Regions from separate parts of the Homo sapiens genome. Here region 2 is linked to region 1. The links come from fine-mapping of genetic effects on gene expression. Tissue or cell type: subcutaneous fat. Region 1 holds a variant in brackets; the other region holds the start of a gene. All regions are shown on one strand. Distances are from middle to middle.

The links. PIP is the estimated chance that this variant, and not a neighbour inherited with it, causes the effect.
Region 2: it holds the start of MICAL2, and the variant in region 1 is fine-mapped to the expression of MICAL2 in subcutaneous fat (GTEx, PIP above 0.99).

The regions. Positions count from the first base shown.
Region 1 is chr11:12,050,981-12,059,086 of GRCh38, reverse strand. It overlaps LINC02547 (long intergenic non-protein coding RNA 2547), which reads right to left. Exons shown (of 2, transcript NR_135109.1): 2 at 1-553. Among named protein-coding and RNA genes, the nearest start is that of LINC02547, 24 kb to the right of the region's middle. The variant G/T (reference allele first, on the strand shown) is at 4,805.
Region 2 is chr11:12,107,333-12,115,438 of GRCh38, reverse strand. It overlaps MICAL2 (microtubule associated monooxygenase, calponin and LIM domain containing 2), which reads right to left and starts at 4,849. Exons shown (of 28, transcript NM_001282663.2): 1 at 4,713-4,849. RefSeq lists an enhancer at 4,240-4,943 and a silencer at 4,486-5,155.

The sequences.
Region 1 (8,106 bases):
AAAATATATTTTTTAAAAAAGAAAAAATTTTAAAAAGATCTTTCTGAAGATCTTTTGAATTGTTACGTATGATTTGACTTCGTGGATTCCTTGGTTGCATAAATGCAAGGAATGACATTTTGAAATAGCCAAGATTCCTCCCCTCCTGTATTTCCTTCTTCTAGGACCCTTCGCCCAATCAGACGGCAGCTGGACTGAGCTGCTGCCATCACCTCAGGAAAGCCATGATGTAAGAGAAAAACACATGTGACTTTCAACTTTTCAGGTGGCAGAAAATCTATTTCTTCTCAGCGGGTATGACAGATTAAAGATGACTGTAAATTCTTCACCACTGCTCCCATTAGGAGGCGGGGTCCTTGCCCCTTCCTGCTGAAGCCAGGTGGGTTCTGTGACTGCTTGAGCGATGGAATAGGGCGGAAGTAATGCTATGCCAGTTGCCAGGCCCAAGACTAGAGACTGGCAGCTTCTGCCTCCTGTTTCCAGAGCCAGGCCCCTGGGCCTCCACGTAGGTGATCTGACTTCCCTGCAGCAGCCACACCGTGAGAATCCTGAGCTGCGTGGAGAAGCACCAGAGATCAGACCTCATGTGAAGAAAGGGCAGGAGGCCAAGGAGCACCCCTGGCACCCCAGACACGTGCATGAAAAGCCTCCTTCCAAGTGGATCCCTCGGCTCTCTCCAAACCCTTCCCAAACTCTTGACCCACACTGCTGCGACCAAAATAGGGTTGCTAGAGTTAGCAAATAGAACTACAGGATGTTCAGTTACATTTGAATTTTAGATCAACAAGGAATAATTTTTTAGTCTAGGTAGCTCTCAAATATTACATGGGATTGCATGGGACATATTTACACTAAAAAATTATACGTTATCTGAAATTCAAGTTTAACTCAGTTTAAATTTTTATCTGTGTAGTAGAGATAGAAGTTAATTTTTTAAGCTTGAAGATAAAATATTTACAGTATTTACAGGTAAAAGATTTGCAGTATTTTATCTGGCAAGCCTGGACCAAAATAATATGTATGTTTTATACCACTAAGTTTCAGCGTTTGTCATGCAACAATAGACAACTAGGATAGCGGGGACGGAAAGGAATCTGGAATAGCTGATACACCAACTGTGGAGGTATACAGTCTCTAGACAGAGCCATTTTTTTCACCCTTGGAAGCAAAAATAGAAATAAAAGACTTGGTGCCTCCTCCCCTTGCCTCCCTCTCCCAGGTTGAATCTCTTCCTGTGGGGTGGGACACACAGCGGCGCAGAGATGTAGGGAGTGACTTCAGAAAGCAGAGGGCAGCTGGGCCTTTCAGCGCGGCCAGTGGCCTTAGGGTGATGTCCCTGCATTCCAACAGGGCATGGAAATTCTGTTGCAGAGCCAGTGTGCCCAAAGAGGACTCAAGGCCAGGGTGAGGATGGAGGTGTGGACCATGACCCAGTAATGAACGGCAAGGAGGTCCTCTGTATTGGTCCGTTCTCACACTGCTGTAAAGACATTCCTGAAACTGTGTAACTTATTAAGAAAAGAGGCTTAATCAGCTCACGGTTCCATGGGCTGTACAGGCTTCTGCTTCTGGGGAGGCCTCAGCACACTTACCATCATGGCAGAAGGGGAAGGGGAAGCAGGCACATATTCACATGGCCGGCAGGAGAAAGAGAAAAGGGGAGGTGCTATGCACTTTTAAATAAGCAAATCTCAAGAGACCTCTATCACAAGACAGCCACAGGTGGATGGTGTTAAATCATTGGAAACCACCTCCATGATCCAGTCACCTCCCACCAGGCCCTACCTTCAACACTGGCGATTACAATTTGATATGAAATTTGGGTGGGGATACAGACCTAAACCATATCGCCCTTTCAGTGTGGACACCCTTCCACCACCTCACTCTCACCACCCCAGCATGGTTGGTACTAAACACCCTCCTTGGCCCTGGGAAAAAGCCAAGGCAGCCCTCACATGGATTGAGATTAATTTCCTTCATTCAGTGAGGTGTGTCTCAGAATAAAAACTCATCTCAGGTCATAGAAAATATGAAAGGTATGTTTCTAGCCCAAATGAGTTCATAATGTTTCTACCTGCCACAAACCATTTTATACCACACTGTAGTTATATTCAAATTGGACCAAAAAAATCTACATTTTTGTGCATTATTACTGACACCCCTAAATGCTCTTTCACATGCCATGTTCAGGCTTCCAAAGTCAGCTGAGGGACCATATCAAACAGTCACATGGCCATTGCAGGGCAGGCTGATTAAGAGCATGGACTCTGGGGCTAGACTGCCAGGCTCTGTCATCTAATGGCTGTGTGTCCTTGAGCTAATTACTTAACCTCCCTGGGCCTCCATTTCTTTAACTGTAAAATGGCAATAACAGTAATATTTACCCCAGAGCATTGCCATTAGAATGAAGCAAACCTGGCTTATGGTATGTGTTCATAAGTCTTAGCCATTGTTTTTTCTTAGAGCACTTACTTGGAGATAATATTTCTTATTAACTATCTAGTTATTGTTTGAGAGACTGGGTCTTGCTGTGTTACCCAACTGGTCTTGAACTCCTGGGCTCAAGCAATCTGCTCACCTCAGCCTCCCAAATATCTGGGACTACAGGTGCACACCACCATGCCCGGCTTCTTACTATTTTATAAAAACCAGCGGAAAATAGAAATGTAGAAATGCTGCTGCCTTTGAAAATCAAATTGTGACAAAGAGGAAATCATGCATACCAGAGGCAGGAAATCTTCATCCTCCAATGAATACCCTCTGGATTTGTCTGCCACCTGTAGGTCCAATTGTTAAGGAAAAAAAAAAAGATTAAAGAAAAACATACAAAATCTAGAGACACACTTGTCTCTAGCTATCAGTGCTCCACCTTGTCACCTCCACCACATTCACCATTTCTATGCACTCAAGCCTGGCCTCAGCTGCCTGCCTCTGGACTCGCCTCAGGACTCCCCCTGGCCCCTGGGGCCTACTGTGTGTGCTCTGCAGGACCACATTGTCAATAGGTAATTTGCTTAGTAAGTCATCTTTTACTGGCTCCCTTTCTTTTTTGGGGGGTGGGGGGCAGGGTTTCACTCTGTTGCCCAGATGGAGTGCAGTGGCGTGATCATGGCTCACAGCAGCCCCAGACTCCTGGGCTCAAGCAGTCCTCCTGCCTCAGCCTCCCAAAGCGCTGGAATTACAGGCATGAGCTACTGCACCCGGCTTATTATAGCTTTCTTTATTTCCTTTTCTTATTTTTTTTCCTCTCTCCTCTACCCTATCAGCATTTCTTGGAATCACCCCAAAAATAAACTACCTGCAATCAGATTTTTGTTTTAGATGTTACTTTTGGGAAAACACAAACTAAGACACATATTAAAGATTACATCTAAAAAGTTAGGCACAATCCAGTGATTTGATCCTGTCATTTGCAACAACATGGATGAACCTGGAGGACATTACACTAAGTGAAAAAAGTTAGGCACAGAAAGACAGTTGAACTGGCCCTCTGTACTCATGAGTACATCCTTGGATTCAACCAATGGTGGATTGAAAATGCAGTCAGGCCTATGAAGATTGTGACTTTTCTTGTCATTGTTCCCTAAACAATACAGCCTAACAGCTATATACGTTGTGTTAGGTATGATGAGTAATCTAAAGATGATATAAAGTTGGCCAGGCACAGTGGCTCATGCCTGTAACCTCAGTACTTTGGGAGGCCGAAGCGGGCGGATCACATGAGGCCAGGAGTTTGAGACCAGCCTGGCCAACATGGCGAAACTCTGTCTCTACTAAAAATACAAAAATTAGCGGGGTGTGATGGTGGGTGCCTGTAATCCCAGCTACTTGGGAGTCTGAGGCAAGAGAGTCACTTGAGCCCAGGAGGCAGAGTTTGCAGTGAGCCAAGATGGTGCCACTGCACTCCAGCCTGGGCAACAGAGTGAGACCCTGTCTTAAAAAAAAAAATACAAAACAAAACAAAATAAAGATGACGTAAAGTACACGGGAGGACGTGCACAGGTTATAGGCAAATACTATGCCATTTTATATAAGGGACTTGAGAGTCTGCAGAATTTGGTATCTGCAAAGATGGGGATGGTATGCGGGTTCCAGAATCAATCCTCCGAGGATACTGAGGGACAACTGTATTGCCTGATCCCATTTATATGTGGTAGCTGAAAAAGTCAAACTCAGAAGCAGAGAATAGAATAGTGGCTGTCAGGGGCTGGGTGGCAGGGGGAAAGGGGGGATATGGGGAGATGTTGGTGAAATAGTACAAAGTTTCAATTATACAGGATGAATAAACTCTGGAGAACTAACATACAGCATGGTGACTACAGTTATTAATACTGTATTGTATACTTGAAATTTGCTAAGAGGGTAGATCTTAAATGATCTCAACACACACAAAAAAATGGTAACTACGTGAGGTCATGGATATGTTCATTAGCTTGATTGTGGTGATCATTTTACCATGTTTCAAAATCTTTCTGTAACATCAAAACATTAAGCCATATACCTTAAATAGATATAATTTTTATTTGTCAATTATACCTCAATAAAGCTGGGAGGAAAATAATTAGTGATTTAATAATGTTTTTAATTTGGGGGGTGGGATATAAATATCTCTCATAACTTTAAATGTTACTGTCAGTTTTTTAAAATAAATTACATAAGTTTCAAACCTCTGACTTCTGGGCAGATTTCTAGGAACATAAAGGGCTGCTTGGGACTCAGTCACTCCTTCCCTTGATGGACACTTGGTTTATTTTCAACGGTTGCTAACACAATGCTGCAACCAACATCCTTTCGGCAAAATCTG[G/T]GCACACATCCTTGATCTCTTAAGCACAGATTCCCTAGAGGGAAATCACTATGTTGAAGGATGTGTATTTCTATTGCCAAACTGCTTATTCTCCCACTGCCTCCCTAGGCCTGGGTCAGAGTGTTTTCCCAGCTGAGTTCTCCACTTGCCTGTGTTCCTGGTTGAGGGGAAGGTAGCTAGTTCACAGGGCACACCCAGAGGGGACACCCAGGGGTGGCACAGGTCTGTGTCCAGTCCCAGCCAGGAGAGACTAAGGGTCACATGCAGGCTGACCCTGGGAACAAGGTTCAGGCCACTAGAGAATGGAAAGTTTATCTAGGGAAACCCAGGGTGGGGCTTCACCATGCAGATGGCAGCTGCAAAGGCTGGCTGGCCCATGCAGCACTTTTGTGCAAATTAGGAAAGGTTGTCCCTTCCTCAGGTTAAATAAGAAAGGTCAAGTTAGTATAAGCAGCCCTGGCTGTGTCCACACACACCACGGCCCACTCATGGCAGCAGCATGCACACACACACTGAGTGCCACCCTCCCCACCCCCCACAGCCCCTCCAGGTGAGGCAATCATGACAGATTCAGTCTTGGAGGTCTTGGAATCAGGCCTTAAAGGGTATCAAGCAGTTGGAGTGCAGATGGGACAGAGGCGCACAGGTGTGCAGAGTTTGTGCACACCCCCAAGTGCCACTGTGAATTTAGGCCAAAGGGTGCTCTCCCCAGCTACCTGCCTGGAGGCCTAGTCAATCTCCCGTCCAGTGTGCTCATGTAAATTAGCATGTCTACCATGTTGATGATAACCCTTAGATGTAGGTGCCCTTGAGCAGTGCTCAACCTGACTTCCTGAACATGGGCCACAAGGCACCATCCTTTCAAGGTCTATGAGCTACACCTGAGTGGCAAACCCCACCTGCTGGTGGGCTTCAGCTCCTCAAGCAAGACCTTCCAGCCCTGCTCAGCAGAAGCCCGGAGATGCAGCAGAGACTTCAGTGACTTCAACAGGCAGGGGCTGAGAAGGCAGGATCCACCCCAGACCACAGCATCTCCAGAAGTAGCTCCCTGGGCTCAGACCTGTCAATTAAAGGCATTGAAGATAAAAGAGGGAGGTTTCAGTAAGCAGCTGGGCAAGATGAAAGCCCAAGTGCTGTTTTATGGCCTCCTAATGGGAAGATTCGGATGCACCTTATTATGCCCAATCAAGTAATTATAATTACAGAAACCCGGGAGACTCAGAGGCGGCCTCCTGGCTTTGGCTTTCACTCCCAACCGGCCTTGACAAATCACGATTTCTCATCTCCTCGCCCACAGGAATCTAGGAACATGCTAATTGCCCCAGAGTTTGGCAGCAGGTCCCACCCACTCCTGGGCTAGACACCACGCACCTGCCCCTCCCCAGCCCAGGAGCCAGCGAGATCTAGCAGTGTGTGTCCAGCCAGAGCCTGGAAGCCAATGGGCAGAGCAGCCCCCGCCCTTCAGCCATGGGTAAACAGAGGGACACTAGGAGTGGGGGCGGCCACGGCTAGCGGGATGGCCAACTTGCAAGGGCCAGCTCGACTGCTGCTGCCTGCTGCACACACTGCATTTTGTTGATTTTATTGTTGTGCTCCCCCTATAAAAATATGAGCTCCATGAGGAAGGGTTGGTATTTGTTTCCCATTGCTGCTATAACGAGTCCCCGCAAACCAAACTTAGTGGCTTAAAACACAGAAATGTATTATCTTACAGTTCTGCAGGTCAGAAACCTGACTGTGCTCAAATCAAGGGCAGTGCTGTGTTCCTTTCTGGAGCCTACAGAGGGGACTCCAGTTCCTTGCTTTCTCCAGCTTCTACAGGCCGCTTGCTTTCCTTGGGTCGTGGCCTCTTCCTCCATCTTGGAAGAAGCCAGGAATCACATCACTTAGAACCCCGTGTCCATCCTCGCACCTCCTTCTCTGACTCTCCTGCCTCCCTCTTCTAAGAACCCTTGTGATTACGTTAGGCCCACCTGGATAATCCAAGGCACCCTCCCTCTCTCCCAGTCAGCTGATGAGCACCTTAATTCCACCTGCAACCTTAAGTCTCTCTTGCCACGTAACATCACATAGTCAGGATTGCAGGGATTAGGGCATGGACGTCTTTGGGGGCAGGGAGGATCATTATACCTACCACAGGGCTAGTGTCTCTTGTTCCCTGCTATAGCCCCAGTGACTGGAACAGTGCCTGGTTCATAGTGGGCCCTCAAGAAAGACGTGTTGAATAAATTCATGAATAAATACATGAATAACCATTAGGAATACTATTTAAGGCTGGGTACAGTGACTCACTCTTATAATCTCAGACCTTCGGGAAACCACGGTGGGAGGACTGTTTGAACCCAGGAGTTCGAGGCCAGCCTAGGCAACATAATGAGACTCCCAGTCTCTACAAAAAATAAAAAATAAAAAATTAGCCGGGTGTGGTGGGGTGCACCTCTAGTCCCAGCTATCTGGGAGGCTGAGGTAGAAGGATCGCTTGAGCCTGGGAGGTAGAGGCTGTAGTGAGCTATGATCACACCATTGCACGGGGTGAGACCCTGTCACACACAAAAAGAGTAAATTTAATATTATAGCAAACAGCTATCACGCTTACTAAGTGCCAGGCACTGTTCAAAGTGCTTTACAAATATTTACTCATTTAATCCCCAACAGTTCTATGACGTACATTTTGTTATTATCTGCATTCTACAGATGAGGAAATTAAGGCACCAAGGAGGAGCTCGCCCAAGGCGCCACAGCTAGTGAGTGGTGAAGCTGGGATTTGCTCTCACGTTTACCGAGCCTACCTATTATGCATCCGGCCCTGGCTGAGCATGTTACATTTCTGATCTCATTTCATCCTCAGAGAGGCCATAAGGGATGTGGGTGGAATAGGAACAGAATTAACAGGCACAGAATTAAGTCACTGGAGCAGCTGAGGAACTCTGAGAGATTCTGTGGCTCAGCTGGGGCAATGAATTGTGTATTGCTTTTTGAGCCTCCTTTGCTAATTAGACCAGGGCCCACCCCCGCAAGCAGACCACAGGTGTCTGGGTTCCCACCATGATGTGGGGCTCCTGCCTCAGCCCTTGCTCCCAGCTTCTGCCCCTAACCGTTGCAACTGGTGCCCAGGCCGCTGCAGATGGCAGCAGGCCATGACCTTCACCTGAAGCTGGACCTGGCAGGTCTGCCTCCAGGAAACCTCTTCCCCAAGGGACAGGAACTGGCTTCAAACCTCACCCAGAGCTCAAGTTGCTTTGCCCTTTTCACTGATGACAACCGTGGGGACCCCCATAGCTGGGCCCTATTCATATTTTGCA
Region 2 (8,106 bases), 56 kb before region 1:
CCCCAAACAAACCATGTCTTCATGTTGAGGGCTGTTCGCAGGGAAGGGCCATTACTGGATGGGTAAAAGACACCTATCGAGGTGTCCAGCACCCCTAAGGACATCTGGTGAGAGAACCAGGTGTGAAGTCCATTACCAAGAGAAGAAGGTACATCTTCTCCTGCCCTCCTAAGCCTCCGGTCTCCTTCATTAGGTCACCCACAAATGTGCCAGTGGTGGTGCTAACTCTATAGAACAAATTCAGACAAGACACTTGAAGGTTATAAACACTTATTTTCCATCACGACCTGCCCCAGTTGTGGATGAATAGTGATTTGAAGAAGGCACCACAACTTGCCCAAGAGTAAGGCAGGTTAGAGAAGGCTCTGGAAGGCACAGGAGAAGCAGCACTGTCCAGAGACAGAAGGAAGAAGAAAAGATGAGTGGTCTCCACCAAGCCCAGGGCCAGGTTTCTGGGTCATAACATGGTCATTCCTGTGGCAGAATTCAAAGCTTGGACAGAAGTGACCTCAGTCTCCGTCAGCCCCACGTGTGACCTGTGGAGGCCGGTTGCTGATCAAGGCACAAACGCAGCTGTCTCGGCTCCCCACCACAAACCAGCACAGTGAGGGGGAGCAGCAGATAGTTCTTCTATTATTTTAGGATGTTTACAGACCGACGCGTGCTGAGGAAACGTCCACACGTAAGCAAGTCATTTTTTTAAAACCTCTTATCTAAGCACATGCACTGGTAGTCACACAAATCCGTGACTGGGTTCATCAATTCAAAGCACATTTCCTGAGTGGCTATGATACAACTGGACAAATGCTTATGGAGCCTCTGCGTGTCCCAGACACGGCGTTCAGTGCTGAGGATCCAGCACAGCCAAGAGGTGGGCTCGTCTTAAGGGGCTCCCTATGTAGTAGGGGAGATGGGCAGTTAACACAGAGGGTAATGGCTAAAGAGGGGGCGCTTCTCTAAACTAAAACCAGGCATAAAAGGACCAACGGCCTAATGCGGCATACCAACTGGATCCTCGTTCAAACAAACCAACTCTAAAGGTCATTTCTGACACAATCAAGGATATCTGCAGGTGGACAGGTGATGTCTAAGAAGCACAGTTAATTCTGTTACGTGCAGTAGTGAAGTGTGGTTATGCAAGACAACGTCCTTTTTAAAAGAGTTGTATACTGGATTATATAGAGGCCAAATGACATGACATTAGACATTTGCTTTAAAATATCTCAGGAATAAATATTCCTTTCAGAGGGGAAGGGAGAAAAAGAGAGAGAGGAAGCCAACCAGGCATAATCTCAATAACTGTGGAAGCTGGGTAATGAGTATATGGGGCTGATTATGCATTATGAGTTTGTGTATGTGAAAATGTTTGTAATATTTTTGAGAGAGGACTGCAATACATCCTGGTAGATACCCTCATGGACATAGCTCGCATAAAAGCTAAGGAAATACAGAGCAAAGAGCACAGAGGATTTGCAAAACCAGAAAATAAATCTGCCAAGTTTCTGAGTGTTTTAAATGCCATTTCATAGTGAGGTGAGAAGACATGTTCATAAATAATTACAATATAGGGTGAGAAAGGGTAAGTACTGTAGCCCCCCCTCATCTCAGGGAGATACATCCCAAGACCCCCAGTAAATGCCTGAAACCTTGGATAGTACCAAACCCTATATATGCTGTGTTTTTTTCTATACATACAGGAGCGATTAAGTTTTCTTTACAAATGAGGTACCTTAAGAGATTACAACATTAATGATAAAATAGAACAATTATAACAATATACTATAATAAAAGCGATGTAAATGTGGTCTCCGTCTCTCTCAAAATACTATAATATTTTCAGACCATGGCTGACTGTAACCGAAACCTCGAAAGGTGAAACCGCGGATAAGGGAGATGACTGCGCAGCAGAGGAGCTGTGCCTGCCAAGCCTCCAGAGTGCAGAGACAGCCACAGGCTTTTCCTGCTTCCCATAGCATTTAATTCTCCACACTCAAACTGCACTCATACATGCTGTGTGATGCAGGCAAGTTGTAACCTTTTTTGTTGTTGTTGTTACTAAAGACAGCAGTCTTGCTACGTTGCCCAAGGTGGCCTTGAACTCCTGGCCTCACATGATCCTCCTACCTCAGCCTCCAAAGTGCTGGTTTTACAGGCATGAGCCACCACACCCGGCCAAGTTGTAACCTTTCTGGGTCTCAGCTTCCTCACCTGTAAAATGCAGTTAACCCCACTTCTTTAGAGGCAGAATGAAACAATAGAATGATGTAAAGAATGAAACATCTCAGCATGATGAACAGTATTCTCTTCTCTGACTCTTTAAAGAATAGAGACTGTTAGCCCTCAGAGGACATCTAGGATCAGCAATGTTTAACCAAGTTATTCTTTTACCCTTACCACGTCCCGTCCTGCCAGAGCCAAGGCTTCCACCAAGAAGACAAGACCTCTATACTTCAGCAGTGGGAAGCAAAGGGGGCAGGCCCATGGCTGGGAGGCAAACCCAGGTGTGGGTGGAGAGAACAGAAACATACCCCAATTATAGGCAGAGAAGGAATCTGGGATCATATGGCTGCTCCTTGCAGCCTGGGAATGGGCCTCCAATGGCCACAGCCACAACCAGGCATAGTTCTTAAAAGCTGATTTATACTAAAGTATAATGGATTGGTATCAGTTTTCATGATTTTCATGACATCATGAAAATAAGTCATGAAAATCATGACTTATCATGATTTTCTTTTGAAAGAGGGGATGAGCAGAAAGCCAGAGCCCTAGGCCTAAAGGAAGAAGGGGCTGGAGATAAAAGTGATGTCATGTTTTTATAGAGGTATGTTCAAACTGGATTTCAATTACCCCACAACCATAACACTACACCCCAACACCTGCCCCCCCACCCCCAAAAGCCCCACGAAACTAGAATCAGTCCTAAGGTAGAGGTTATTTCAGCTAACACAGTCCTCCTAGACTATACCAGAAGCCAGCTTCTCAGAGGTGAGGCCAGGTCAATGGTAGAAGCAGGCTTCCTTCCAAAATAGCACCCAATCCCTCCCCATAGCAATCTGGCCAACACTATCCACTACTCTTGACTAGGGGGAGGATAAGGGGTTTGCAGGTTGAACAACTTGGCTAACCTGGGTCACTTCAACTGTTTTGCCAAAGAAGCATCCCCTGAAATCCTGGTGGAGAGCATCTTTTCAGAGGCTGGAAGGCTCTAGTCAGCACGCTGTGGGGCCATGGTCCTGCACACAGCACACCACTTCCCACAGCCATGAAACAAGAGCACTGGACTCACACTGACAGGGCCAGGACCTGGCTCAGACACTTGTTGTGTGACCTTGGGCACCTACCATACCTGAGCCTCTTTCCCCATCTCTAAAATGGGGAGGGCAAAACTCTCAGCGTTTTTGGAATAACCATGAAATTGGCTGCAAAAGTGCCACAAGACAGGACCTGTTGCCCAGTAGGCACTTAATAAGTCCGTCTTCTCTCTGCATGAAGAAAGTGAGTTCTTACGGTATTAGAGTCTCCAGGGCATTGCACAGGACTACCCTGGAGACCGGAGGCCCACTTGTTGGGTCGACTGCCACTGGGGAGGGGGAGCAGGACAGAGTAAGTGCAGGTGTCAGGGAACCTGGCACAAACACTGGAGGGCCAATTCGCCTCTGGCTTTTCTCCCGTGGGACCAGCCCACAAGGGGCCTGGCTGGTGACTTCATCCTTCACCAAAATCATTGTAGACTGTAGTTAACAGGCGACAATCACAGCAAGAGAGCCGGCACACTGCTGTAGGCCTGGCGGGGCCCTACAGGCTTCCAAATAAAAGCTCTTTCCGCTTTAAGAACCCAGGCCTCAGAATAAACAATGTGGAAGGAGGCACACTACTCTGGTTTCCACATCCCCTCATCCCCATCCAGTAAAGGCCGTTCCCAGCTCTGCCAGTGAGGCTGGCGGTGAATACAATTTACCCCACCTGCCCCGTCTGGCCCGGCAGCGGCTTAGACGCTGTGGGCAAGATCCCACCTCTCCCCGGGGCCAGCCAGGCACCTACAGGGTGGGTGCCGCGGACACCCTGCGGGGGTGCTCCTGGGCCTGGAGCGAGAGCGGGCTACTGGGGATGCGGGAGACGCGATGCAGAGCGGACAGTGCCGCGGCCCCTCGGACCACTGCCACGACCCCATCCCGACTGGGCTCCAGCCCGCGGCCAGCCAGGCCACTGACATTTGGCCCAACTTAACTTCCTGTTACTAAAGAGGGAGGGGACAGGGGAGGGGGAAAAGGGCGCCCAGTGAAGAGCTGGAACGGGGCGTGCAAGGCTCGGAGCCCCAATCCTGGGAAGTTTGGGGATGGTCTTCTGCCAGGTGACAGGCAGCACTGCAGGCGCGTCACTCCCACCCCGTTTTGGCGCTTGCGATTTTCTAGGCTTGGAACTGCAGGGTTTGGGTGTTGCGGAGCGGAGTAAGAGGTAGTTCGGCGTGCCGGTGGGAGGCTTTTATTGCGTTCTAATTGGTTCAGAGGCCGGCCAGGGCCGCCCCGGGCTTCGTCGCAGCGCCACCTGCTCACTGTGCGCCCCGCCGGGTGGGTTTGAGGCGGGGGATGCTGCGGCCGCACCTGACCCTCCCGGGCGTTGGACACGGCGCAGAGTCCAGCCGAGGCTGGCACGGTCCCCACCCGCGCCCGCCCGCCCTCCCCACCCTGAGGCCAGCGCCGCCCCCGCCTTACCGAAAGTCGCGCGGGCTGCCCGGCCCCGGGTCAGGCCTGCCTCGGCCCTGGCCGCGGGCGCAGCGATCGGGCCCCGCGGGCCACTGACAGAGCTGGGAGCGAGCGAGGCGGCCCGGCGCAGGCTTAGCCAGCCGAGCGCCTGCGGTTCTGCGCCGCGCGGTGGACCGGGCTGGGGAACGCCCCCGACAGCGGCGCGGCCAATGACAGGACAGCACGGAGCCCGCCCCGCCCCCGTGGGGCCGGCTGTCACCGCCGCTGCCGCCGGCGCACGTGGGCTGTAGCCCGGCCCAGAACGCAGGGAGTGGCCGGGCGCTCCCACCCTGACCCGCACAGGGCGGAGACCAGGGGAGGGCTGCTGGGAGTGGGGCGTGGTGGCGCTGCGAGATGAAACCCCCGGTGTTGGTAAGCGGGTATCAAGGGAGCGGCGAGGGCCTGGGCCTCACGCTTCTTGGTCTAGGCGGCTGGAAAGCAAGACACGGCATCCCCTTTTGGACATGGGGGAGCAGCATGGCACTTCTAGTACCGACTGTGTACGTCCTGTGGACCTCCCTCTTTGCTCGGCTCCTTGACCACCCTGAGCTTCCGCAAACCTCCTTGCTAGCTAATAGGATCTTCCCCTCACCTGGCCTTGCTTGGCTAAAGCTAGTGGGAAGGGGGCGGTGGTGCAGACTACCTGTGTTACCTTGGTCAGATCACCTAAACACCCTCTACCTTTGGCTGTCATATCCCTATCTTAATCTCTGCTCTGCCCACCTTCCCGGGTTACCCTTACCCCCCACAGCTCCAGAGAGCAACATTCACAGACAACACAGTGTGAATGGAGTGGGGCCTAGTGAGCAATCAGAAGCACTCTGTAGACTATAACTACTGTAAAACACCTTGTGTTTAAACGGCTCTTGTAGCAGTTATCATGAAATGGGGATCTCCATGGGCAGGAACCATGTCTGACTCACCTCTGGAACCCAGGGCCCATCACAGGGCTTGGCCCGGTGTAAGCATCAATAAGTGTTCTTGGAACTGAGCTACCTAGGCAGAGGAAAACAGGCAGGCTTGAGCAGTGAGAAACAGTATTGTGGCTCCAGGCTGCTGGAATTTCCCCAGCACAAGACCACCTCCAGGAGACACCATGTTCCCTTGCCAGACAAGTGCAAACAGAACAGTTTGCCTCCCCAAACCTGCAGATTATTATTATTTTTTCTCTACTCTACTTCTTGCCATGTGATCCTACTCTCAGCCCTTTGGTGTTTACCAGGTATTGTCCTACCTGGCAGCTCTCTTAGCTCTCTCTTCAGAATTCAATCAACTTCCTGTAGATGAACTTTCCAGCAAAAGCTGTTCCTACCCAGTTTGCAAGGCCCAGTCAGCTTGTACTCTCAGAGGGCCAGCACTCCACTCTGATGGAAATCTGCCTGTGATGCCAGCCTGGGGAGTGCCCTTCACACGTGATCTCATCTAAGCCTGGCTTGACAGGTATGTATTGTATCATCATCCCATTTCACAGATGTGGAAACTGAGACCAGTGAGGTAAAGCAACTGGTCAACATCACATGGTTAGTAAGTATCAGAGTCCGGATTTGAGCCAGATCTGGTTCCAGAATCTACATGCCTAAACACTATGTGCTGGGGCCTCTACAGCACTGCCCATGCCTCTAGGGTACTTGACAGGTCAAGTCTAACCCTGAAAGAGCTGCTCTAGGCCTGACCCACTCCCAGTCCATCCAAACAGTCTGTCAAGCTCAGGCCAGGGCACTGTAAGGGAGAGGAGACTCCACTGGCCTGGCCCTACCTTATTTAGAAGAGTGATACAGGAAACCCAAGGCAGTGAGGAGCTTCAGGAAGCAGTGTTACATCTGTCCCCACCTTAACTACACTGGACATAAAGCCTCTTGCTATTGGCCTGGACCTGAGACACCCATGTGGTGGATAGAGATGGAGACAGAGTCATTCATTCATTTAACAAACCCTACTCCGAACCAAATGTGGTTCCTGCACTCATGTAACTTATAATGCAACAGATGAATAATCAGAAGTACACAATGCTGTCCAGACATGGTGGCTCAGGCCTGTAATCCCAGCACTTGGGAGGCTGAGGTGGGCAGATCACCTGAGGTCAGGAGTTCAAGACCAGCCTGGCCAATATGGTGAAACCCCGTTTCTACTAAAAAACACAAAAAATCATCTGGGCATCATGGCACATGCCTATAATCCCAGCTACTCAGGGGGCTGAGGCAGGAGAATTGCTCGTACAGCGAGACTCCATCTCAAAAAAAAAAAAAAAAGGAAGAAGAGGAAGAAGAAGAAGAAGACCACAGTGCTTTGGGAGCTGTATTCTTTATTACTCTTTTTTTTTTTTTTACAGTTTTATCACCTTACCAATAGCACAACATTCTCCCTTCAGATTAAAACAAGCTTAATGCTATTTCAGGAGCACTGTGGGCCAACCAAGTTTAACAAAGATAGCATTGCTCAGCACAGAAGTTCAAGCAACTTAAAAATTAGAACTTACCAATGCATTCCCAGAACCTCTGCCTCCTCTCCCCTACCCTACTCCCAATCTTTTTAACTCAGGGGGCTCAGATAAGAAAGACTCTTGCTAGGTGGGTGCATCTGAGGGCTGAGAGGTGAGCTTTTCCTTGGACGCAGGGCAACCTGGGAACTGAGAAGGGTTAACTGCATGGAGGGAGATAAACCTGGGGACTTCTTGAGCCAGTGGCCAGAGCCACTCACCACCTCACACAAGCCACCCTTGCTGACCATCTTCCTGGAGAGAGAAGAGGAATGGGTTAAGGATGTCACAACTCACCTTCCTCTGGACTAAGCAGTCACCATGGGATGTCCTGCTGGGCTGTGACTATGTCTAGGAGTTATACAGCTCAGCTCTTCAAATGAAAGATCTAAAGTTAGGGCAAACTTTAGAGGAATATTTATCGAATCCCTTACCTAGCAGATGAAAGAAAAGAAGAGGCCAGGCATGGTGGCTCATGCCTGTAATCCCAGCACTTTGGAAAGCTGAGGTGGGTGGATCACTTGAGGTCAGGAGTTCAAGACCAGCATGGCCAACATGGTGAAACTCCGTCTCTACCAAAAATACAAAAATTAGCTGGGTGTGGTGGCACACGCCTGTAATCCCAGTTACTTGGGAGGCTGAGGCCAGAGAATTCTTGAACCCAGGAGGTGGAGGTTACAGTGAACCGAGATCACACCACTGCACTCCAACCTGGGCGACAGAGCAAGACTCTGTCTCAAAAATAGAAAAAAGAAAGAGAGAGAGAGAAAAAAGAAGAAGGAAGGGAGGGAGGGAGGGAGAGAAGGAGGGAAGGAGGGAGGGTAGAAAGAATAAGGAAGAAAGGAAGATAAAGAAAAGAAAAAGAGGCCGGGTACAGTGGCTCATGCC